Linked DNA regions of Homo sapiens: all the other regions are linked to region 3. The links come from fine-mapping of genetic effects on gene expression. A gene starts in region 3. Each other region holds a variant in brackets. All regions are shown on one strand. Distances are from middle to middle. Region 1 overlaps EPHB1 (EPH receptor B1). Region 2 overlaps EPHB1 (EPH receptor B1). Region 3 holds the start of EPHB1 (EPH receptor B1). Region 4 holds the start of LOC105374121 (a long non-coding RNA gene). Region 5 overlaps EPHB1 (EPH receptor B1).

The links.
Region 1: its variant is fine-mapped to the expression of EPHB1 in whole blood (INTERVAL, PIP above 0.99).
Region 2: its variant is fine-mapped to the expression of EPHB1 in cerebellum (GTEx, PIP above 0.99).
Region 4: its variant is fine-mapped to the expression of EPHB1 in whole blood (INTERVAL, PIP above 0.99).
Region 5: its variant is fine-mapped to the expression of EPHB1 in thyroid (GTEx, PIP 0.99).

What each region holds. Positions count from the first base shown.
Region 1 is chr3:135,073,316-135,078,315 of GRCh38, reverse strand. The region is part of intron 3 of EPHB1 (EPH receptor B1); the gene reads right to left. Among named protein-coding and RNA genes, the nearest start is that of EPHB1, 280 kb to the right of the region's middle. The variant T/A (reference allele first, on the strand shown) is at 2,940.
Region 2 is chr3:134,903,618-134,908,617 of GRCh38, reverse strand. The region is part of intron 1 of EPHB1 (EPH receptor B1); the gene reads right to left. Among named protein-coding and RNA genes, the nearest start is that of EPHB1, 110 kb to the right of the region's middle. The variant T/C (reference allele first, on the strand shown) is at 2,820.
Region 3 is chr3:134,792,353-134,797,352 of GRCh38, reverse strand. EPHB1 (EPH receptor B1) reads right to left here and starts at 2,093. Exons shown (of 16, transcript NM_004441.5): 1 at 1,664-2,093. The coding sequence starts at 1,721. RefSeq lists enhancers at 1,718-1,907, 1,918-1,967, 2,012-2,306, 2,368-2,577.
Region 4 is chr3:134,850,331-134,855,330 of GRCh38, reverse strand. The region is part of intron 1 of EPHB1 (EPH receptor B1); the gene reads right to left. It overlaps LOC105374121 (a long non-coding RNA gene), which reads left to right and starts at 846. Exons shown (of 4, transcript XR_924525.4): 1 at 846-932; 2 at 1,584-1,855; 3 at 1,951-2,140; 4 at 2,761-2,919. RefSeq lists enhancers at 2,111-2,320, 2,431-2,490. The variant A/T (reference allele first, on the strand shown) is at 1,924.
Region 5 is chr3:135,035,488-135,040,487 of GRCh38, reverse strand. All of the region lies in intron 3 of EPHB1 (EPH receptor B1), which reads right to left. Among named protein-coding and RNA genes, the nearest start is that of EPHB1, 240 kb to the right of the region's middle. The variant T/A (reference allele first, on the strand shown) is at 2,047.

The DNA.
Region 1 (5,000 bases), 280 kb before region 3:
GAACACCTCCTTGGGAAGACCCATCCCTCTCTTCTGAGGGAGGAGATATCAGCTTCTTCTCTTACTCCTTTCCATACTCCTCCCCCTGCCAGGCACAGTGGATACACTTGTCTGAAGGCCTGAAGTCTTCTCACACTGGGCCTTTAAGAGCCTGGCCTCTTACCCCATCAAATCTACCCTTGAGCAGGAACCTGGGGGAATGCAGGAACTGAGATAACTGTGATTGAATCTCAAACTTTGAATAACTGACTTTACTCTCTGGGCTGCAGTTCCATCATCTGCAAAATGGAGTGGTAATAATAGCACCTACTTCAAAAGATTTTGTGAAGATTAAACAAATCAATGCTATCACATGCTTTCTATAGAGTCTTCCACATAATAAGGGCTCCAAAATTAGGGCTGTTTATACATGGAAGTAAATAACTAAACCAATGGCAAAGATCAACCTTCTGGTATGGGAGATGTGAGGGGAGCAAAGTGTGTCTTGATTCTCAAAATCCAGCAAAGTCAACCACAAATGCCTCTGCAGCTCCTGAGCTTCCTACTTCCAGTCATTGGGTTGTGGCCCTGGAATGGGCCTTCATGGGTCGGCTCTAGTCCCTCCTGTAGCACCAGGATGTGCCATGTATGCATCTCAGGGTCTTTATGTTTCCCCTCCACCCATGTCCCACATGTTGTTCCTTCAGCTCCTGCTACCCCACCCTTCTCTGTTCAGTAAGCTGCTTCTACCACGTCTTCCTCCTACCTAGGTTTGAGACCATCTCCCAACAACTCTAAGCCCAGCCATCCATGGCCCAGTGATGTACACTAGAAAGCAGGGCATGCTCATCAGAGGACCTAGGCTTCAGAAAAACAGAGTGGGTGAGAGGGACGGCTGACATCAGAGCAGGGAGAGGGGCAAGTCTGTGACTGCAAGTCAAAGGCATGGTGGCTGAGGGGTTCAGAGAGCAGGAATGGTCCCAGATATGTGGGTGAGAAAGAGAGAACAAACCTGGGAGCAGGATATTGTAAGCTGATGCTGCCCAAGACTGCCACTCCTGCAGAAGGGAATGGCAGGTCCTCACACCAGTGGCCTGCAGCCTTCCCTGGAGGCTGAGACTTGTCCCACGGGGTCCAAAGCCCACTCTCCCCTTCTCTCCCTGTCCATGGTTCCTTTGGCAAAATACATTCTGGAATCTACTTCTCTTTCTTTCTTTTTTATCTTAAGCAGTTTTATGGAGGTATAATTAACATATCATAAAATTCATTGTAAATTATTCAATGAATTTGAGTAAATTTATGAGTTCAATGATTCTTGGTAAATTTGTAGAGTTCTCACCACAATTAAATTTTAGAGCATGTCTACCACCCCGTAAATGTCCCTCAGGCCCCATAACTGCTCCTACCCCCTAATTCTAGGCAACCACTTATCTACTTTCTGTTTCTGTGGATTTGTCATTTCTGGACATTTCTAGGACTCATTCAACATTTTCAAAAATCTGGCTTCAATAACTTAGCACAATGTTTTGGCATTCATCCATAGTGTAATGTGTGTCAGTATTTCATTCCTTTTTACTGATGAACAATATTCCATTGTATGGATATACCACATTTTGTTTATCCATTCACCAGTTGATAAACATTTGGATGGTTTCCACCTTTTGGCTATTATGAATAATGCTGCTGTGAATATCTGCATGCAAGTCACTTCATGGACATATGTTTTCATTCTCTTGAGTAAAAATCTGAGGAGTGGAATTGCTGGGTCATATGGTAAACTTATAATTAACTTAAGAAACTGCCAAACTGTTTTCCAAAGCAGCTGTACAATTTTACATTCCCAGCAGTATTGTATAAGACTTCCATTTTTGAATTTAAAATTATATCCATTCTAGTGAGTGTAAAGTAGTATATCATTGTGTTTTTAATTTGCATTTCCTTACTGACTAATGATGTTGGGCATATTTTCATGTGTATAAAAATCATTTGTGTATCTTCTTTGCTGAAATCCCCATGCATATTTTTGCTCATTTTTAAATTGAGTTGTTTGACTTTTTACTAATGCATTTAAGAGTTATATATATATATATATATATATATATCCCTTTTCAGATAAATGATATACAAATATTTTTCTCGAATCCAATTTACCAATGTTTCACCTATGGATTGTGCTTTTGGAGTCATATCTAAGAAATCTTTGCCCTAAGGTCAAAACATTTTCCTAGAAATTTTATAGTTTTTGTTTTTCCTTTTAGGTCTATGATCCATTTGGAGTTAATATTTGTATATGGTGTGAGGTAATCTTGTTTTTCCTGCTTATGGATATCCAATTGTTTCAGCACTTCCAAATAAACACCAGGAAGCCATCTCTTGGGATGGTTTCCAACCACTGATGTGACTGACCATCTACTCATCCATCCCCAACTGCCTCAAATAGGAGAAAGGGCTAACGTTACCTACAGGTGCCAAGACATTTTCTGGGACTCTCCATCAGGCAAGCCCCTTGCAGGTAAAGAGCATCTCTCCTCCTTCATAGAGTGGCCTGTCCACTGTCCACACTCAGTAAGAATTAGCAATGGCAGTGATTAAGAAGAACTGTGAGTCTGATGGAGTGGAGGCAGGATAGTAGCCTCCTGCCAGCTGCTTCTTTCTTTCTACCACCTAGGGACTGAGAAGAGCTGTGGATGATGCCATATAAGCCACCACACCCTATCATCAGCCAAGCCCTTATTCCTGAAGAAGCACAAAGCCCATCAGCTCCTAGCTGTTGGCAGCTAGTGTGGGAGGCAGAAGAAAGAGACATTTCATCATCTTAAGATACCTCAGCAGGTCCATGGGAGCAACAGGTCAAAAGGCCTTCTACCTGGGTGCTTGGGTTGCATGATGAAACAGACGGGGAAATGGGGGCCCTGTAATTGGAGGGTGATATGCAGACAACAGCTCAGCAGCAGGTCTAC[T/A]CATCAGATGGCTCATGGATTCTGGCTATCGATTCCCAGGCAATCTAACCCTGCAGTTGACAAAAGGGAGATGCCAGCAGACTCTGGCACTCTAGATGTCTGAATTCTCAGATGGGCAGGGCAGCTGGCAAGGTTGTTTCAGCCTCCAGAAAGCGCAACATTGACAGGTGGTAGAGATGACTGAAAAGGAAGCCCAGGGCTGGTTGGGGATAGTTCAGATATCCAATCAACCTGCTTAAAGGCTCATACTTTGAAACTGCTTCTTGTATCCAGCACCTAGTCTTTCCTCCTTTGGATACTACCAGAGAATCCCAGAAATCTTTCCTAACCTGGTTGGCACCTCCTGCTCCCACCAAACTCCAGAAAGTTATTAAAGAAAAACCACACAGGCAATGATAGGTGTATTACAGCGAGGGGTCCTTTTGAGCTGCTTGTTGGATTGTGCATGGTAGGCTCTCACCCTGGCCTGTGGGTCTCACTCCTCATTTCCACCCCACCACCCTGATACTCTGCTTGCCCCCTCTGATGCTGCTTACATGGCCTTTACTTAGAGGTCACATGCAGTATGGAAGAAGGAGAGCTCCCCAAAATGTAAGGATTGGAAACAGCCTTCATAATGACATAGTGCCACCCCTACATGTTCATATGGGGAAACTGAGGCCCAGAGGGGAGGGGATGGCCCAAAGCCACAGTATAGAAGCTGGGGCTAAGACTAGGTAAGTGCAATTGCCTGTGGATCAGTGACCAACACCTTCCCAGGTGGGAAACACATCAGCAGGTTTCGATAACATATTTAAGATCTAACTGAAAATGGTGTGTTTAGTAGCAGATGGATAAATGTATCCATAAAAGCAAGGCTTATGTTGTTCATTCAGTAAAAGTCCTAGGGTACTAAGGACATATCAAGCAGTAGAATTAACCCTAGAACAAAATCATACAACATTTTTCCTTATAAAATCTGGGACTACAAAGTCTGGAGTGGAGGAAAAAAAAACCTGAAAGCCTAGAGACAATTCTAAACTTGCATTTATTCAATTTCTCATTCATTCAACAAATATCCATTGATTGAAATGCATCAAGTATGTTTAAATCTATGAGCTCATGATGATATTTAAACACTCCACTGATCAATTGGAGAATGTAGAGAACAACTCATTATTTTGAAAACTGATCAAGACAGAGAATCAAGCATTTATATGCCTTTCTTATACAAACCATAACTAAATAAGGGCAATTTTCTTCTTATAAAATATTTCAGTTAATATATGCAGAAAGAATGATAGAATTGGAATAGTAACATTTTGCAAACCCTAATGAAAGACTGGATCTGGACAATGAGAATCAACATCCCTAACATCAACATCACAGAGAGAAAAATCAGACAAGATGTGCCTCCATGGATGAATATGAAGTTGAAGTATTCTTTCCAAATAAATAAGCCTGAATCTTATCAAACTTTTTTACTTCCCATTTACAGAAATTGCAGAGGACAGAGGAACACGCTAAACACCACCACTGGAATGCAACGAGCAAACTCAGACTATGGAACGCTCCATAGGACAAACAACATGGTTTCTTAAACAAACAGATTTCAAGAAAAAAAAAGAAAGGGGGAAAACTATAGATTAAAAGAGACTAAAAAGAGATAATAAACCCACTGCAGTTTAAGGAACTTCTTAGCCTGATTCAAATAAACTTAAAAAAAAAGAGAGAAAGACAGAGACATTCAGGAAATTTTGAACACTCTCTGCATATTTGATGATATTCAGAGATTATTATAAATTTGCTTAGATGTGATAATGGTATTACGGTTATTTACTCTGAAGAATTCTTATCTCTTAGAGATATGCTCTGAAATATTTACTGATAAAATGATAGGATGTCTTGAATTTGCTTCAACATAAGGAATTAGTTAAAGCCAGATTGGTCTTGGTTTGACAATTGTTGAAGCTGAATGATGGGTAAAAGTGAGTTTGCTATACAACTCTCTCTACTTTTGCATGTGCTTGAAATTTTCCATTATAAATATGTTAAAAATACTTTTGTGAACTCTTACTAGGT
Region 2 (5,000 bases), 110 kb before region 3:
CCAGGAATATATCAGGCCTTTCCCAGCCCTGCCCCTGTCCTCACCACGCTGGTGGAGCTCTGTGGAGAGTTGGGCCAGACAATGGGCCAGTGGGTTCACTTGGGAACTCACAAAAGCCCTATTGCCCTCCACACAGCGCAGAGTGACAGGCATAGGGAACAAATCCCCTTCCCTGCAGGCTGCCTGGGTAGGATAATATGGGGGCACAGGGCCTCTGGAAGCATGGCTGGAGGTCTGGGCCCTGGGCCCAAGACAGCCTATGGAGAGGGCCAGCCCCTCTATCACTCAGAATTCACTGAGCTGCAGAGTCACAGAGGCTTGGCATGGCCCCAGCCCTCATGTTTGTTGGGAATGTTAGCACCTCCATGCCGACACACTGAAGCCTCTAGATGCATACGCAGAAGGCCCCACACCATGTGTTTGGGGTCTGAGAGAAGAGGGTTTGCAAAAAGGAAGATAAGATACACAGCTTACTGCACTGCAGTGTGGGCTTTGTAAGGGCAGGAACTATTCCCAGGCAAGGGCTGGACACAAAGCACAAGCCCATGAGTGACTGAATCAGTGAGGGAAGAAGATGGAAATGAGACCCTAGCCTGGCTACCAGCTGTGGTGTGCAGCACCTCAAAGGAGGAAGCTTGGAAATTTCTAGTCTCTAACCCTGCACCAGGAGGACTCTGGATTTAAGAGCAGGAGCATGTTGGAGGCCCGGAGAGGGGAGGCCACATTCTAGCAGGCTGGAGAGGGGAGAACATGTGGGGCAAACACTGACATAGACAATTATCCCTCACTTCCGAAATGCAATCAGTCAATGACATCTACTGTGGGCATGGCCCAAGACTTTACTGAATTTTTAAATTGAGTAATACAGCCAAGTTCTACTCTTTCTTATAAGATGTCTATTCTCTTTTTCTTTAAGATTTCCATCACCAGTGCTGGCTGGCTTTCTTGGTGGGGAGGGGGCGGGCAGGGGGGTCAGTCACTTTTCTTCCACTTCACGGGAGGCAGTTAATCTAATGTATGTAATGCAATGATGATAACTGGCAATCAGCAAAGCACTTGCATCCCTCTTGGCTGGTACCTTAGTGCCTGTGGGTCAAATTTGCATCTCAGCAAAATGACACGGAACTTCACTCTACAGCATTCAAATCTCAGTGTTAAATCTGGTAATGGCCAGAGACAACTGAGCTGTGTTTTCTTTATGTTTCACCAAGCACTTTGGGCCCATCTGCCCTTCCTTTAGAAAAATGATGCAAAGCTTTGTCTACCAGCAGAAGAAAACACATATCTACTTTATTTAGTGGACTCTTACCTAGCCAGCCATGGTGCAACTAAGAGAGCACTGGAGTTGAAGTCAAAAGATAAAGGTTCCAATCTAAGCTGTGTTGATAATGGCAATGTGGCACTGGGTAACCCACACAACCTCTCTGAGCCCCAGATTTCTTATCAGTAGCATGGATGCAATATACCTGTTTCCCACGTTAATTTGAAGATCGAATGAGGTACTTTTTGTGAAGTGTTTAACACTGCACCTGGCCCATAATAATCACTTATCAATGCTAATTATTATTATTTCTAAACAGTTGGATTCAGATATATGCCTTTTATAAATAGCACTTGTCTAGCCATTAGAGTTTATAAACTATTTTCACAGGCATTATCTTATCTTAGAAGACCATTAAGAGACAAGCATTGGCCCTACTGTTTGAGATCTCATTACACAAACTGAACACAACACCATCAGTTGAATGGTGGCTCAACTCCCTAGACCTCTGGGGTGATAGCCTCTGGGCTGCAAAGCAGCACAGGTCTAGGTAAAGTCCTCCAGCCCAACCCAGGAGCACATTCTCCAAGAGGGCCTTGGTTTACCACTGACCACACTGGCTGCTCTGATAAGTGTTATGATGGTCTGCTCTGGCGGCTGGCAAACTTCATATGTTAGGCTTTGGGAGCCATAAGATCTCTGTTGCAACTACTCAATTCTGCCATTGCCATTACCTCATGTAAGCAAACTATAGGCTGGATTTGGCCCATGATATATAATTTTCCCACCACTAGATAGTGAAGGGTTGTGGCCTGGACAAACATGCTAGAAGAATTTGATCAGTGATATTTAAAACTTGTCTTTTCACGTTTGATCACTTCATTCATTATTTTATTGTACAATTAAAAGAAAAAACTCTTACAGCTATCAGCATACCTATAAACGTCCACAAAAGTTTGTGTGACCTCTAGAATACCAGAAAATCACCAGCTGGAACCCAGAGGATACTCAATGAACAAAAATAAAATTAAATAAAATTTATATTACTAAGTCATCTAAATAGAGTGTACCTACAGAAGATGACTGGCCTAATTCTGATCTATGATGCTATCCCCTCGGGCTAAATGGTTTCAACAAAATTCAAAAAGGAATTTGAGTCCTTCCAAAGGGGTATAAAGGGAAACAGAATAAACATGGGGAACACAGGCCTCATTTGCCATTAATGAATTTGCAGAGGAACGTGTATAATTAGTGTGTTTGTCAGCTGGGTTTCTGTAGACTTGGCACATCAATGGGATCGCATCACCATGGGAGCGCTCAGAAGGGCCATGGGCCCTGGGCTCTCGGAAGAGTCTCCTCTGATCTTATGGAAACCACCAATCAGAGGTATGAGAAAGGAGATCAGCCAAGAGAAAATTCAATACTGCAAAATCAGGTGGCAGAGGAGTGAAGCTAGCAGATGGGCAAAGGGGGCTTCAGAAGGGAAGCCAACAGCAAGATGCTCAATCGAAACAGTCCAAGGACTGCCTGGGAATCATGGGGAAACGGCAAGGCTCTG[T/C]CTGGCTTTCACAGCTTAGAGGGCAGTTGGGAGGAAATGTCCACAGCAAGGCTCCTGGTCAGCACCAAGAGGAAACATAAGCCAAGAGTCAGTCCAGATTTGGCCAGACCTCAGCACAGGAAAAGAGGAGGCCAGAAGTGTGGTGTACTCCACAGGCCACACTGACTGGCCCTTGTAAAACCACCTCACCACCTGCTGCCTTTGCTCTTCCTCTTTTCCTTAGGCTTCCACTCCATTGCACCTTTTCCCAGCGGGTGGTCCCTACAGATGTGCTGGGCTGATGGATAAACCACATGTGCTTCCCAAAGCAGAATGCTTGCCCTGCCCCCTGGTTGGCAATGCTGGGCAGTCAGTAATGCCGGGAATGACAAGAGAAATGCCTGACATGCGGAAAGTGACAAGAGAAATGTGTGGAAGGTGTGGCGGGGAGTGGCTGCAGTGCGCACACTCCACAATCAGTTTGGTAGGCCAGCAGCATGTGGAAACTCACAGAGAAAATATGTCGGCTTCAGAGAGAGGCTCCTGGGGCCCCCTCAGCCAGCACTTTGGATAGCTCCAAAGAGGAAAGTGGAGGAAGGCTGATCCCCAGTGTCCATCCAATCTTCTCTACCTGCAACTTACAAGAGTATTCTAAAGAAACACTGCACTGGAGGTGGGTACTGATGCAGCTATTGGGGAGTGAAGCAGGACCCTCACCCACAGCCACAACCACTCCCACATGGTCTCAGGGGCTGACTCATGGTGACCAGTGCTGTGGAATCATGCCCCATTACTTTTGTTTTACAGTTTCAGCTCCTGTAGAGATCATTTGTCTCTCCAAGTGCAGTCCTGTGACTGGGCACTCTGCCACCTGGTGCAAAGCCCGCTCCCCTAAAAGGCCCCTGGTTAAAGCAGAGAAGTAAAAGAGCTAGGCATAGCAGACCCAAACAAGAACATTTTGTCAAAAACAGATCTCTTTCACCAACTAAGCTTGAACAAATTGTATAAACACTATATTTAGACACTTTGAAGGAATGTTTAAAGTTTGTGTTTCCTAAATGACAGTCAGATGTCTTCCCTGACTATCTGTGATCAGCTGTAGAATTCACTTCCCCATCCCATACTCGTGATCTCCAAGAGACTAGCTACTCAGTGTGTGTGCCAAAATCTCTCAGCCATAGCCCCTTGGTGAGGAGGTATTTCTCCCAGCTATGAACTTTTTCCCATGCAGAGTCAAACCATCCGCTGGCTCAGCAAGTGTAAAGCCCCAAAAACTGTGGGTTGTTGCTTCTGAGAAATGTCCACCCCCATGGTGCTTACCTGCCACCCCCCACCACAGACCACAGACCACAGACACACTGGCCCAGGCTGACACCCACTCGCAGGCACCCCTCCACCACCCTAGCAGCTGCCTGCTTTCACACGCTGCCTCAGAGATGAAAGCGACTATGTCCCTTAAACAGAAGAGAATATTTTGAACAGAGAATTAACAGCAAATTAAACTGGTTTCACTGTACTCATTCATGCACAAAATTAGTGTGGGAGTTAAACCAAGAAAAAGCAAACAGGCGATGTGTTGCGATAATCAGAGGGCAGAATCCAGCCTCAGAAAGAAATGTTCACTCAGAGGAGGAAAGCCTGGGAGCTACAGGCTCCTAATTGGGCAAGAGTGCTACCTCTTCTCCCACCTGGAGCCAGCCTCCTTTCCAGGGCTGGGGGATCCAAAAGGGCTTGGAGATCTCCTAGGCCAGCAGCAGACAGCCTCATGACAGGTAGACACACCCTCCTGAAAAGGCCCCCGGTGCTTGCCTGCTCTGCTCCCTGGGCAGCTGCTTGCACTGCCGCTGCACAATCAATGAAAAACATTACAGAAACAACCAATTAGGGCCTGAAATGCCTTCAGGCTTTTTCCTTCGTGGGCACATCTGGCTGCGGTGGGGTCACAGTGAAACTTCTCTCCTGTGGATTCACTGGGACCCAGAATTAGCAACAATGGAATAATAACCAGCTTTAGAACACCAAGCAATTTTTAATAACTTCACAAATCTTTCCTTCCAACTCTGTCTGGTTAATCTATTACCTAATTCTTACCTTTGATAGAATTCTTACCTTTGGTCCCTCCATTTACCAAGGCCCCATCATTCCCATCCCTAGAATAAAACCTGGTCCAGGCGTACACAGTCCAGGCTGGGTGGAAGGGAA
Region 3 (5,000 bases):
TATCCCCTTGAATTTCCAATTTCAACTGCTCCCACACGTGTCTCTCAATAAGTCAAACCCAGGCATCCCTGCGCCAGGGTGTTGACGGCACTCCACACGGCTCCAGTCTTCTCCTGCACGTTCCAAAAAGCAAACCCCTCCTTGCTCCCCTCCCTACAAAGCCCAGCAGTCCCTGAGGGAAGCAGGAGACTGAGGGCAGACAAAAAGCCACCTTCGGAAAAGCAAGCGAGAGCTTTCTAGGCATTAATCGCCGCACCCCCACGCCGCCACCAGAACAAACGTGGGATGCGGTGGTCTTCGCCAAAAGGGAAGGGAATCTTAGCCGCGCCTCAGGGCCCGGAATGCCCCTCCAGCTTCACTTCCAGAAGGGCAGAGCTTTCCGGAATGGCGGGGGGCACCAAACCATCGTGTTTGGGGGAGTTTCCACTGGGCAACCGGTCACAGTTTCGCGAGGAACGAGTAACAAGCGGAGCGAGCTCCCAGATGGGAACGCTGCGCGGTCGCCAAGAGCTGCTCCTCCCCGGCTTGGAGTCCCCCAGAGGAGTTCCATCCGGAGCAGGACACCGGAAAGTGGGGCTGCTAGCCGGACTGCGGCAGCGCATCACCCCTAGAGTTGGTTTTCTCCCGACAACTCCAACTCCGCTCTCCCGCGGAGCTGTGTTCCCAGGAGGCTGCCGCGGCCGCTGCTAGGCTGCGAAGAACAGAGGCGGGGGAAGGGGCGGGAGGCGGGGAGCTGGGCCGGGATTTCCCACAGGGATTCGCGAGCGCTACCGAGCGCCCAGGCTCCCCGCTGCGCCGGGCACGGTGTCTTTGGAGCGCGCTTTCCCAGCCACCAAGCCGGAGGCACCGCCAAGTCTGAGCTGGCAGAGAGTGACGCTGCCCGACGACTCCCGGCCGCCGAGTATCCTCTCCGGGGTGGTGGAGAGGCTGGGAGACTTTAGGTAGGACCGACCACTCACCCCAGCCCACTCCTGTTCCAAGGCTCAAGAGGCGAAAAGGGTTTCCACCTCTCCCCGACTGACCCTGGAAACCTGCAGTCCCGCAGGCGCCCGGACCACCAGACTGGTCCCCAAGGGTACGGCCAATGAACTCCACCCCTCTCCTTCGGCGGCCACTTGCGGGATACCACGGCAGAGCTTCTCCGGCCCCCGCGCGCAGTGCTTGCACGCCAAGCAGAGTCCACTAGCCCGTGGACTGCGAGCTGGAGAAAAGGAGGTGGCGCGCGGCTGCTCAGAAGCGTATCCGTGCCTGGGAGCAGACGGGCGCCAGTACTCCAGGAGCCGGATGGCCAGAGGCACCCCTTTCTCCCCAACGCCCAGCTCTGGCTCTGCCCCAGAGCTAAGGAGCATGCACCGCAATGCAGCGGGCTCCGAGCTCTCCGAGCGGGGGCTGCGGGAGACCGAGGCTACCAGGGAGTGCCGGGGCGAGGAAGCCGGGGGACTCGCGAGCCAGTTTCGGGCGCTAAGAGCCAGCCGGGGGCGCTCTGGTGGGTGCCGCCCAAGCCCCGCGCTCGGCAGCGGCCGAGGCTCCCAAACCTCCTTGCCCTCGGGTCCCGGGATGCCTGCACCGCAAAGCAGCCAGAGGAACCCCGCGAACCGCGGAGCACAGCAGTCCCAAGGCGGCCGGCACCAGCAGCCAACTTGCTCCGTGGAGGGTACGTTACCTTCCATCGCAGCCACTGCGGATGCCAGGAGGAGCAGTAGTAGATAATCCAGGGCCATCGCCGGCCGACGGCCCGCAGGCCGAGACCAAGCCGAGGCAGCAGCGCCGGGAGAGCGCCGCGTCCCAGGGCGCCGCTGCGCTCTCCGCGGGTGGCTTCTCGGTATCCTTTCGCGCTCTCGCCCGGACCGGACTTCCCGGAGCGCTGCGTGGGCGTGGGCAGGAGTGTGTGCGCGTGGGGCGGTGCGGGCGCGCGTGGGTGTGGGTGTGCATGTGTGTGTGTGTGTTTATGGGAGAGGTGGGTGTGTGCGTGCGTGTGTGAGAGAGAGAGGGCGAGGGAGAACGAGCCTGGGAGAGCGCGCGAGAGCGAGTGCGTCCTGGTGTCACATTGCTAGCTACAGCGGAGCCTACGGGAGGACGGAGCCGGCCAGACTGACGCGGGAGGGAGCGGGATCCCCCACCATCAGCTCTCTCCCCACCCCTAACACCTCCTGTCCAATCAAGGAATCAAACCTGCAAAATTCCCCCGGCCAATCAGGCGCGAGCACCTCCTTACACTGGCATTGTTAGTTTAAGAAAAACTTTTGCTTGCAAGGCTGTGCGGGAGGGCTCGGAAGGCGCTAGGAGGGGTCCGGGCTCCCCCTCGTGGTGCTCTCGGAGAACCGCAGCGGCCCGCCCAACTCACCCTGTCCCCCCATAGGGTGCCCAGCGAAGGAGCTGGGGAGGCCTCGTGCCCTTACATCCCACCCAGGACTGGATCCGCTTTAAATGATCAAACGAGCCTTCGTTCATCTTCTCTGTGACAAGAGCACCCTGCCTACCCTGTTTAGAGCAACTCCAGGGGCGCACCCGTGCCTCTCCTCCAGAGCTCTTCACTCTCTAGCATGGGTTGGTATTTACTAATCGATTTTGTTTATCGTGGGGTCTCTCCCTCATTAAAATGGGGTCACCATTTTCGGATTCTTGTCTATTTTGTTCACTACAGAATCCACAGTTCACAGAACAGTGCCTGGCCTGCGGGAGGCATAGTACATGTCCGTCGAAAGAATGAATACTGTTCAGATAACCTGTGGGCACTTGCTCCAGGGTCCACAGGGAACCGGATTTGCTTCCTGTCCAACGTTTCGCAGTTCTTTTTCTGCAGAAGCCTCTGGTTGCCTTTGGTGTTCACTTCCCAGTGCATTGTGAACTTCCACAGAGGGCCCTGACCCCAGAGGACAGCTCAGCGTGGGGAGACCAGGAGTCACACAGTCAGCTATAAAACAGCAAAGCCTGCAAGAGGGCTCTCCCAGGCCGGTGCAAGGCGAGGTGCACTGTTGCTGTGGGCCAGGCCTTCAGTGTGGGTGGGAAGGACTTAGGCAGCAACTGGGGATGCAGCCTTGGAGATAGGAGCAATTCTCCCAGGCTCAGCTCTCACAGCTACACTTTATCTTCCTGTTTCTGGAGATGGTCAAGGGTTCTAAATCAGAAACTCACCTTGAGGCTGTTATATGTTATGCTGGAGATGTGTCCTTCCCTCCTCTCCCGCCCCCCCTACATACCTGATGATAGTCTGGTCCTACAGGGTCAGGGATGACCCGTTAGGTTCCCCACCCCTCCTCCTACGCCTCTCACCTTGGAGGCACCAATCCTTTCCCCTGGTCTGTTAATGAGCTAACAGTGGGCAGATGCGATATTTCCCTTTGGGATGACTCTCCTTTCTGGGCTTTTCTAAATCAGTTCCCCACACCCCCCACCTCTGCGTGTCTAGTCTCTCCTTTGCTGGGACTTCTTCCTCTCCACCACAGCCAGACTCAAGTCCCCCAATCCTGACAATTCTTTCCTTCCCTGGCTCTGACTCAGGCTGCCTTCCTCCTCCCCTCCCCTCCCTCCTACCCCACCTCTGTGCCTGAAGGGAAGATGTCATCAACCTCCACCTTCTCATCATCCACCTTAATGCCATGTTAGCTGCCCTCTACGCCTCCACACCACCAGCTGTGTCGTGATGTCCCTGGAGCCACCTGATGTCACCCTGGGCAACAACCTGCTCCTAGTTAGCTGTCATCCTCCTGCACCGTCAGCACCTGCTGACATTGGTGTCCAGTAGATCTTTTGGGGCTCTGGCCCCAGTTTCCATGGTCCTGCTTCTCCTCCTACCCGTCTTGCCACTTCTTACTGTTCCCTCTGTTACCTCTTCAGCTTTCAAGAGAGGTATCCCCCAAACTCCATCCTTGGAGTTCGTCCTCCTGGGGTACATGGGCAACTCCTTGGCAGCTTCACTTGCTTTTTTACCCCCAGCCATCCCCTCATGGATGGACAGGTGGATGGATGGATGGGTGAGTTTCACACTCTTCCCTCCCCCTTTCACTATATCACAGTCACTTGGTAGGCATGTCTGGCAAAGCCCCGGCTCTGCCATGTCCTCCTCCTTATGCCCTTGTCCTATGCCTGTGCATCTGACCCAGTGTAAACCCATACTACCTTCCCCTGGACAACTGGAGAGTCTCTGAATGACAGTCCAGCTTCCCTCCCTCCCCTTAATCCCTCCAAACTCTGCTGCCAAACTCATCCTTCTCAAGCCAACCTTGATCTTGTCTCTTCCCTGCATAGCAACCTAGTGGCTCCTCACTGTCTGCTGAAGAGAGACTGACCACTCTAGCATGACATTCAGACTGCTTTGTAAGCTCTCTGAAACCTGCCTTCTCAGCCCAGGCCCTGCTGGTCTTTCTCTGGGCCTAGGGTATCCTCTTGCCATCTCCACAACCACACCCAGGCCAGTCATGTGCTCACCCACGTATTCAGGCAGGCCCTGTTCTAGCTGTGGGAACACAGTAGACAGCCCTTCTCTGAGGGGTCTTACCATGTCCTGGAAGGGCGGCAATAATAAGCAAATAGGCAGTGGCATGTCAGGTGCTGAGGAGAGCTCTGAAGAATCACAAAGCAGGAAGCAGCAAGAGAGTGACAGCGGCTAGTTAGACATGCTGGGAAGACCTTCTGTTTACTGAGCACCTTCCGCCACAAACACTGTACTGGATGTTTACTTGCACAACTAAAATGAGTTGAATTGAATTTCCTGACCTCTATTCCTACCCAAATCCCACCTCTCCCAGGAAGCCTTTTCTTCTGTCCCTCTTCCTGATACCCTCATGTTATATTTCTGTGGGTACTGAATGGCTCTGTCAGACATGGCTGAAGGTATAAATGACCATTATCCAACTAACTGCAGAATGTCACACCTGGGAGTGCGCTTGGAGCCCACCAAGTACAGGGATTTCAAGTAGAACCCAGCTAGGGACTTTGAACTTGTGCCAGGATAAATACAGCAACATCACCAACTAGGCCCTCTAAAAATACTGATCCCT
Region 4 (5,000 bases), 58 kb before region 3:
TCTGGCCTCTGGGGAGCTTCTCCAGACTCTTCTCTAGGTTTTTGCTGCAGCCTTTTCCTCCATCTGGGTTTCAAAGCCTGCCTGGAAGTCTCTGTCTTAAATCTTACATTTTATATTTATAACCCATTCTATTTTAGAAGATTTAAGGTAGCTTACAAGGATTATGTAAAATACTGAAAGATATATAAGCAAACAGGTAAAATATATATGTATTACTAAAATTTTAAAGAGTTGCTAAACACCACGGATAATAAGGTCAAATTTCTGACTATTGTGAGTGCGCATGTGTATATATGTATATGCCCACATATGTGTGTTGTGCACTCATGTATAGGAGAGACAGGTAAGCTGAACAAAAAATTTAACAGATTGTCCCAAGGAGTGGGCAGGGGATTATAATTCACTTCATTTTTTTCTTTATACTTTTCTATATTTTCTTAACTTTTTATAGAGAATCTATATTTGTTTTACAATATGAAAAAAGGCAACAAAAATTCTCTAAAGAAAAATAGGTGAGAAAGAGAAAGCCAAACCAAGCGTAAAGACATAAATTGAAGCCCATGATGAGGCTAAAACAACTGAATTTCTATGGCCAAGCCATGCATTTGGAGCTCAATTTTATAGCAGTCAATGGATGAGGAAAACCTGATCAGTTACACGGGTCACGGGGTCCACAGGACATACAAAGCGATTACTCAGAGAAGCCTGGCTGTCCCTGCTATGGAAGCATGAGGCAAACGCTTCCCATGGGGCCCCATGGAGAGGACACTCTGTGATGCAATGAATGCTGTCAGTGACACCCTCACAGTAAACACCACCGAGTTTCACAGGCTGTTCTAAAGCTCCTCAGTGCGGGCTGATGGCATCTCACCAAAATGCGGTGCAATAAAAGCAAATCCTTGAAGAGTGGAAACCTTGCAGCCAGGTTCATGGTGGGTCTGACTTAATCCAGAGGGAGAGTTTAGAGGATTAAGACCAGGACACAGATCATCTCCTCCTCCCAAACGGCTCCTTTCAGGCTTGGCTCAGCCCCTAAATCATCAAGCAGAATCCTATTCCTCCACTCACAAGAGGCTGCAGTCAAACTGACTCCGGCAGACATTTGTTCAGTCCACACATATTCATGCAGCACCTACTGTGAGCCAGGCCCTGTGCTCTCCTATCGCACAATTACTCCCAGTAATACCAGACCCGTCATATGCCTGGAGCTTCAACCTAGCTCAGCCCAATATCACCTCAGGGCTTGCAGCAAGGACAACACCATATTTTGGCATTGGAGCCTTGGGTGAATCTCCAGGGCAGGAGAAGAACATGTGTGCCTGCTCACACACCAAAAATGTTCACTTTTGGTATTGGGTGGTTGCAGCGAAGGATGATTTGGAGGCTTGAGTATGGGCTCCCAGGAAGGACTCCATGATGGATGGGCTCTCTGTCCTGGATGAGGACAATGCACTGCAGGAGATGTGAAGTTGCTCCTATATGGAACCCCTGTCTCTGTTTTCCATCCCTGCTTTGGCCCTGGGCAGGGAAGACCAAAGCCTTCTCTTCCTCCCCAAAGCCTTCTCTTTTCTCCATCCATACAGGAAGGGCTCAAGAATATTGCTGTGCTACGGTGCTTCTGCAGGCAGGTTCACCATCTGTGTAACTGTGGCTACCACCTTCCATCTTGAACTCAGACACAGACCTCTCCTCCGAGCTCCAGATCCATATATCCAATCTCCTTCTCAATAGTCACTTGCAAGTCTCAGCCATTTCAAAGTCAACCCAAAGTGGTAATCTTCAAATCTTTCCCATTTCAACAAGTGACACCACCATCCACTAATTGTAAAAGTCAGAAACCTGGATGCCATCTTTGGTAACTCTCTCTCTCCTTCTTCCTGCAGCCAACCTATCACTAAAATCTGTGTGTTTTATCCCCAAAAC[A/T]TGTCTGCCACTTCTCTCCATTTCCAGCTCCACTGTGAGAGGCTGCTCACACCACCCCCTACATGCCCTGAGGAGTCTCCAGGGGCACCCACAGCCTCCTCTGGCTTTCTCTGGGTGACCCAGGGAGGGCTAGGCCCTGTGAGCCACACCGGGGCAGCAGCACTCACCAGCTCACAAGTGCTTCCCTCTTCTGCCTTTGCTGACAACAGTCCCCCAGGTAAGCTTTCGCCTTCCCCTTTGTCTCCCCTTTTCTTTCCACTTCTCTCACTTCTGCTTTCATTTTCTATTCTACTTCTTTCTCTTCCACTTCTGAGCTTTGTCTATTTCTGTTCTCTTTCTTTCTCTCCCTCCCGACTCGGGCTCCACTTGCTTCCTCTTCTTCAGATGTGACAGTCATAGAAAGTCAGAGCTGGCAGTGACCCCACCTGCCCTCTGACAGTATGGAAGGAGACTGTGAGGCTCAGAGAGGAAAGCAACTCACCCACATTCTCACAGCAGTGGGCAGCACAGTCAGCCCTAGGGCTCAGATACCCCAACCTGGTCCAGCACTCCTCCACTTATACCTCACTGTTTTGCTGCTTTTTCTTGTCCCCTGTCCCTTATCCCATGACAGTGGCCTGGTGCTGAAGACAGGCCTAGTCATTCTTTGCACAATACCAGTCGATAATTAGGTTGCATAAGTATGTATGTATCTTTCTCTCTTTCACACACACATGCACAGACACACACACACACACACACACCCCACATTTACTGCACAGATACGGACACCTGCACCCAAAGTGTCAGAGGAATGTGACTTTACCCTCTCCAAATGCTCCTTTTGTGCGTTCTCAGGCCTTCCATTCTCCTTCCGATGAGGCTGATGTATTCTGTTGCAGTTGGATGCACCTACAAAAATCCTCTTCAAAATCCCATCACTTCACCACCAAGGAATTACTAAAATACCATGAAGGAGGTGCTCAAAGGCGATATGGGGCAGAGGAAGGAATAAGTGCCTGACCCTCTGCCCCTTCTCTCCTGCAGCCCCATATGTTCTTGGCACAAGAGGGCTACAGAAATCCAATAACATCTTCGGAACCCGTCCAGATTTGACAGAGCCATCTGTGAAAAGCTGCTTGCCAGGGTGGGAGTGGCAGGGCATGCTGTGGCTATAGATTTAGGGTCAAGGCAGACTGCCAGAGGGGTGGGGCAACCAAAAGGAGGGGACATTGAGGCAGACAGTGGTGAGGGGTGGGGACATGTGGATGGAACGAGATGGCCATGGACTCTCCTGTTGTGACCACTTAAAACAGGTAGAAATACGCCCCGAGGTGGGTAAAGTGCACAGCCGACTGCCAGGAGGGACATGGGGCACATAATCTGAACTTAAACCCTTGTAGCCCTGGGATTCTACTGAAAATCCACCCTTGGACAGAGTTTCAAAACAGACATTCAGCAAAGAAGGATGCATTAAGATCTCAGGTTCATCCTAAGGCCCATGGAAGCACACCAGGCCTCCAGGGCCTGGGAAAAGACAATAGCAGAGCTCTGAACATGGACAAAGCTACAACACAGTAAGAAGATTACAATATTTTTCCAGGCTATCATGATTTTGCACCATTTTATGGTTTTCAGCCAACATAACTCATTAAATGTGTAACAAAGAGTATTTAATAGCTATACCTTCTTTTACAAGACAACATGTGAACAAAACTCAAAGATAGGAAAAAACTCTCCTTTGTCAGGCAGCGGAAAATGGCCACAGTGTCCACAGGTCAGGGCACCCAAGGCAAGTGAGCATGGTTTTGCCCCCATGAGGGACTGGCAGTAGCCCAAGGAACAAGACTGCAGAGGCCAAGACAGCCCAGGTGTTCCTCCCATGCAAACCAATGCATACAAAGTCCAAAGTGCATACGGGTGGCTACAGAAAGAAGGGAAGCTGCAAGGGGAGTTGCAGGGGAAGGAGGGATGGAGGAAGGGAGGAAAACCCAGGGGAGCAAATGGGAAGTGGGGGACAAAGCAGAGGGGGAAGTGCAAAGAGGAGAGGGGAGATGGGGATCCGGGTCAAAGGGCACTGGGGATCAGGGAGGAAAGGCTGCAAGGATTTGACAGTAAGACCCCAAAGGAGGCCTGGAAATGAGTTTCTCCAGAGACCTAGTCACTTTTGGAAACCTGTCCCTGAGAAGCTTGCATAGCATAAAGTAGGCAGGTGTGCCCTGCTGGGCTCTGCCTTTCTGCAGCCTGAATTCCTCCCTCCAGACAAGGCCTGCTGGCCCTGAGAACTCCAGCCTTTCTTTCCCTTCGCTGGACCCAGCCAGACACTGGAGGGACACAGGACCAGCACCTTTCCCTTCAAACACACTCAGATCTTCAGTCCAGGAGGAAAGAAGGCAATGGTCCAACCAGGAAGAGGAGAAAAAGGCCTTTCCTGGTCCAGGCCCTGGCCAAGGCCCATCCTTCCATTGTGATGCAATTTCCCTTCCAGCTGCATCTGCTGCCCCCATGGGGAAGCAGATGAATGCCCCCCTGGCTCTGCACCAACAGGTTAGAATGATCTGCTCCAGCTGACCCTGCTCCTGGGGACACTGTCTGCACCTCCCTCGTGCCCTCAGAGTAGCCACAAGAGCTCCCAGGGTATGGAGAGTGAAGCGGGTAATGACAGGGAATGAAGAATCACAGCCAGCATGGGAGCAGGCAATGCCAGCCGCTCCTCCTTGCTCAGGCACACATTTCCAAAGCCTTCTGGGGCTGGCATGAACTGCCCGCACCAAGACTCCTAAGTTAGCCCCCAGACTCACCCATAGCCCCTTCTCACCACATGCCTGGGACACAGGCCTCTTCCTGCCCCACACTTCCCCATCCTCTGCCCCACCCGACGGTGAACAGTCAGTGAGGTCAAGTCCCCATCCCTGTGGGCCTTGAAGCCCCATTTCCCTCAGGCCGGGAGAGAATTCCCAGGGGGCAAGGTTGGAAACATCCCTCTTTCTCAGAGAAGCTCTCACCCAGCCAGAGGTCAGGCGTGGAGAAGCACCAGCAGACTAGCTCATCCCACAGTACAGAGAAGAACTAAGGCCACCTCTCCTCTCTCTCTGGGG
Region 5 (5,000 bases), 240 kb before region 3:
CAGCCCCAGGGCTCTGTGTCTCTGCATGGCCCATCCCTCCCAATGCTGCAGGTCCCCAAGAGGACAAGCCAGGCTGCTCTGAGGATGTCACACTGCATGTGGGGAGCTATTCCTAAGACACCCCTGCCTGATAGAATTCTGGGTGGCTGAGAAAATTCCAAAGATCAGCTTGGGCTTATTGCACACTTACTACATGCCAGGCCCTTTATACCACATTATAGTGTATGTATCTCGAATCTCCTGAAAGGAAAGTATTATTACCCCAGATATGGATGGTGGAATCAAGTTTCAGAGATGAACAGCATTTGCCTGAGAACACACAGCAAGTAAGTGGCAGAGTGTGGATTTAAACCCAAGAAACTTGACTCCAAACTCAAATTTTTGTTATCTACAAAGATTTTGCAGGTCAGGAATTCAGACAGAGGTTGGTAATTGGCAGAGGAATTCTCCTGCTCCATGTGGCAGGGACTACAGTCCCTCAATGTATTCAGTTGGTGGCTGGGGGTGAGAGGTGACAGCATGCTGGCAGTCCTCAGAGCCCTCGCTTGCTCTCGGCACCTCCCCTGCCTGGGCTCCCACTTTGGTGGCATTTGAGGAGCCCTTCAGCCCCCCCACTGCACTGTGGGAGCCCCTTTCTGGGCTGGCCAAGGCTGGAGCCCACTCCCTCAGCTTGCAGGGAGAGGCACGAGCGGGAACCGGGGCTGCGTGCGGCGCTTGCGGGCCAGCTTGAGTTCCGGGTGGGCATGGGCTTGGTGGGCCCCGCACTCGAAGCAGCCAGCCAGCCCTGCTGGCCCCGAGCAAGGGGGGACTTAGCAGCCGGGCCAGTGGCTGCGGAGGGTGTACTGAGTCCACCAGCAGTGCCGGCCCACTGGCGCTGTGCTCGATTTCTCGCCGGGCCTTAGCTGCCTTCCCGCGGGGCAGGGCTCGGGACCTGCAGCCCACCATGCCTGAGCCTCCCACCCACTCCGTGGGCTCCTGTGCAGCCCGAGCCTCCCCGACGGGAGCACCACCCCCTACTCCACGGCGCCCAGTCCCATCGACCACCCAAGGGATGAGGAATGCGAGCGCACGGTGCAGGACTGGCAGGCAGCTCCACCTGCAGCCCCAGTGCGGGATCCACTAGGTGAAGCCAGCTGGGCTCCTGAGTCTGGTGGGGACGTGGAGAGTCTTTATATCTAGCTCAGGGATTGTAAATACACCAATCAGCACCCTGTGTTTAGCTCAAGGTTTGTGAGTGCACCAATCGACACTCTCTATCTAGCTGCTCTGGTGAGGACGTGGAGAACCTTTATGTCTAGCTCAGGGATTGTAAATACACCAATCGGCACTCTGTATCTAGCTCAAGCTTTGTAAACACACCAATCAGCACCCTGTGTTTAGCTCAAGGTTTGTGAATGCACCAATCGACACTCTGTATCTAGCTGCTCTGGTGGGGCCTTGGAGAACCTGTGTGTCGAAACTCTGTATCTAACTAATCTGATGGGGACATAGAGAACCTTTGTATCTAGCTCAGGGATTGTAAACGCACCAATCAGCGCCGTGACAAAACAGGCCACTCGGCTCTACCAATCAGCAGGATGTGGGTGGGGCCAGATAAGAGAATAAAAGCAGGCTGCTGGAGCCAGCATTGGCAACCCGCTGGGGTCCCCTTCCACACTGTGGAAGCTTTGTTCTTTCGCTCTTTGCAATAAATCTTGCTACTGCTCACTCTTTGGGTCCACGCTGCTTTTATGAGCTGTAACACTCACCGCGAAGGTCTGCAGCTTCACTCCTGAGCCAGCGAGACCACGAACCCACCAGAAGGAAGAAACTCCGAACACATCTGAATATCAGAAGGGACAGACTCCAGACGCGCCACCTTAAGAGCTGTAACACTCACCGCGAGGGTCCGCGGCTTCATTCTTGAAGTCAGTGAGACCAAGAACCCACCAATTCCGGACATAGGGGGCCTCAAGGAGCCAAAATGGTCCAACTCAGCAGCCTGGCACCTTGACAGGGTCAGCTGCCAGACTGGGCCTATCTCTCTCTCCCTGAAGTTTCAGGGAT[T/A]CTCTATGTACTCCCCTCTTGCAGAGGAGCAGGACTTACATGTTTACTCAGGGCACGAACTGACCAAAGAGGAAGCAGCACATGCTGTTAAAGGCAAGACTCGGAACGGGTAAAGTGTTACTTTTGCCACAGTCCATTAGTCAAAATAATCACAGCCCAGCCCAGATTCAAAGGGAGGAGAAATGGGCACCATCTCTTCTTTGGATATGTGTCAAAGAATTTTCTGTCATTCCTACCCCACCACGGGTGAAAAGTAAACTCACACATGTTATATAAGCAGGACTTAGGGAGGCTACCCCAGTGGAGCTTGGACTGTTCACTGGAGCTACAAATGGCTAACTTGCCCCTCACACCTTACTCTGGTGAGGATAGTGGGAGAAGCATACTTGCAGGAAGGGGACACACCCGAGCTCTGTGATAAGCCCACATGTTCCTGCGGCTCTTAGGTTGGGAGATCTGGTAGGTAAACAATGACTGTGATAAGAAAAGGGTAGAGCCTAATATGGGGCACACCAATTCTAACACTAACTGCAGAATTCCTGCAAGTTTATTTTATAAGTCATTTAACCAGTCAGTGTCTGAGGAGGCAGAGAAAACCTGGTTTAATAAAATTCACCACTCAAAGAACATAGATTAATTGTACCCACTCAATGCAGAAATCATGAAACCTCCAGGAAATGTAAAATCCACATTTCAATCTTGTACCTCTTGGCTTGTTCAGTAATAAGACTTTTATCCAAAGTGAATCTGAGATACAGTGCAAACTTTTAGCTGGTTCATTTACTCCTTTTCTATCATTATACAGAAAGCATCACTGATGGGCGGTGGGGAGATAGATGGTAAATCAATGGTGTCCCTGGTCATAGGCAAGTCACCTAAACTCTCTGGACCCCAGTTTCCCCTTCTGTCAAATGGACTTGGTCTATGTGATTTCTAAATCCCTTCCAACGGTTTTATGTTGGGAGCTAATGCTAGTGACCTTTAAAAGCCAAATTCATGCAAAACCAGTCATTTTCTCCAGTACATATCTAACGAGTGCTTTCCTGTACAAAGCATTTGTCCTCAAGGGACGTCTCCCTGAGGATTTGAACCTCCTCCAGTTTTCAAGGCCAAGACCAGGGAGCATTCTATCAAATCCTCCCCAGAGGCCACAGTCTGATCCCAGTATTCTTCCTGTCTCTTGGAGATTTGAAACAAAGAACAGACTTTTCATTTTCAGAGTGCATCTGGAGTAAGGAGATTTAGTTTCAAAGTGATTTGCTGCACAGAAAACCCTCTATTTTGCTTCCAAGCCTGAGCAGTTACTCTAGCTCTTCAGCATGTGCTAATTCTCTCATTACTGGGCCTGGGATGAGGGTGGCGATATCCCAGGTCAAGATGTTCCCCATGTCTTGAGAGAATGCCTGATTAAAGAACAACAATCCATCTATCTTCTCGGTAGTCTATTTACCACCCCATTGCTCTGGTCCTGCCCACTTGGCCTGACACTTGGCTGCCCGAATCAATCAATCAGGAGAGCAGAAAGCTGTCCTAATAGCCACATCAGGACTGCTCATCAAGCCCCACTGCTCACTTTTGTAAACCTCTGCAGCCCTGAAACCCAGTCACATCAGTCCAGTGCTACCGTCCACAGATCAAGATGCAGCTTCCATATTTGGGTTTCCTGACCTAGCTGCCTGTGGACCTAGCTGACCTAGCTGCTAGATATTCTAGAAATATCCTAAATAGACATAGGACCTGACTGATCACAGAGGTTAAGGAACCTATCCCATGCTTATACAACGGTTCAGAAGAAGATGAAGGCCAGGACACCCATCAGTCACACTTTCATGGTGGCTGAGTTAGGAGGACCCTCCACAGGTCTGAAGGGTGAAGTTAATGTAGAAGACAGCAACACTTGAACTGTGCAAGCCTGCAGGTACCCATCTCTCTCAGTCTCAGGGCACAGTAGCCTATACACTGCAGAGCACCCACATGGCAAAGACAACACAGAATGGGAAAACAGTGAGGGGTCAGCTGACCTCACAGGCCATGCAGGCCTGCCTCCTCCATCCTGACCGGTTTGGATGGGTATATGCCAATTCCACCACTTCCCTGATTGATTTTCTCCCTGTCCAATTCAAGCAACCCCCAGCTGCTTGGTTGCACTGGCCTCAGTCCTCTCTGGCATCACCCTCCCCGAGTAGTTATGATATGGGCCTGAGGCTCTAGTCCTCCAGAGATAGCGTCTCAACGGCCTTGCTGTGCTACCTATGCCAACGGCCTCCTCTGTCTTCCCACCCAACCATAGGCTCCTGGGGTCAGAAGCGGCTTCTTACCTCTCTGTCCTCAGTATTTAGACTAAAGCCTGGCAGCCACTGGAGAGTACTAAGTGGATGTATGTGGAAATAGTGAATGGATGGAGAGACGAGTGGATGGAAGGAAAAATGAATGGAGAGATAGATAAATGAATGTTAGCTCCAAAGAGGATTTCCATACACTTATGCCCCTCTTTTCTTCAAACCTGGGGACCTGGCTAGACCAGATGCTTCGGCAAATCCCATGAGCCAACTACCCTATGGACCAAACTTGTCTTTTTGGTGGTATAGCAGTGCTGGCATGTTACAGACAGCCCTCCACATGGGCCAGTCACCTGACCCTGCCACAAGCTCATATGCTATGGAATGGTATATGACTAATGCATCATGCAAGTATATGTGCAGTGGCAGGAGATGCTGGAGTAGTACCTCAAGGCCAGTGGACAGTAGGTCTCCAGCTGTCCAGCATTTCCCAGAAACAGATGCCAGACCCATGAAAATGAGTATGAGAGGGACTGTGCTGATGAGCAGGAGGGTCCTGGTGGGATTCCAAGCCCCAAAACAGAACACGCTAGATTTCAGCCTCCTCCTCTAATTACCCAGGGATGTGCTCCCTAGGATGTACTTTAAGTATAAAAGACTCCTTAATTAAAGGTA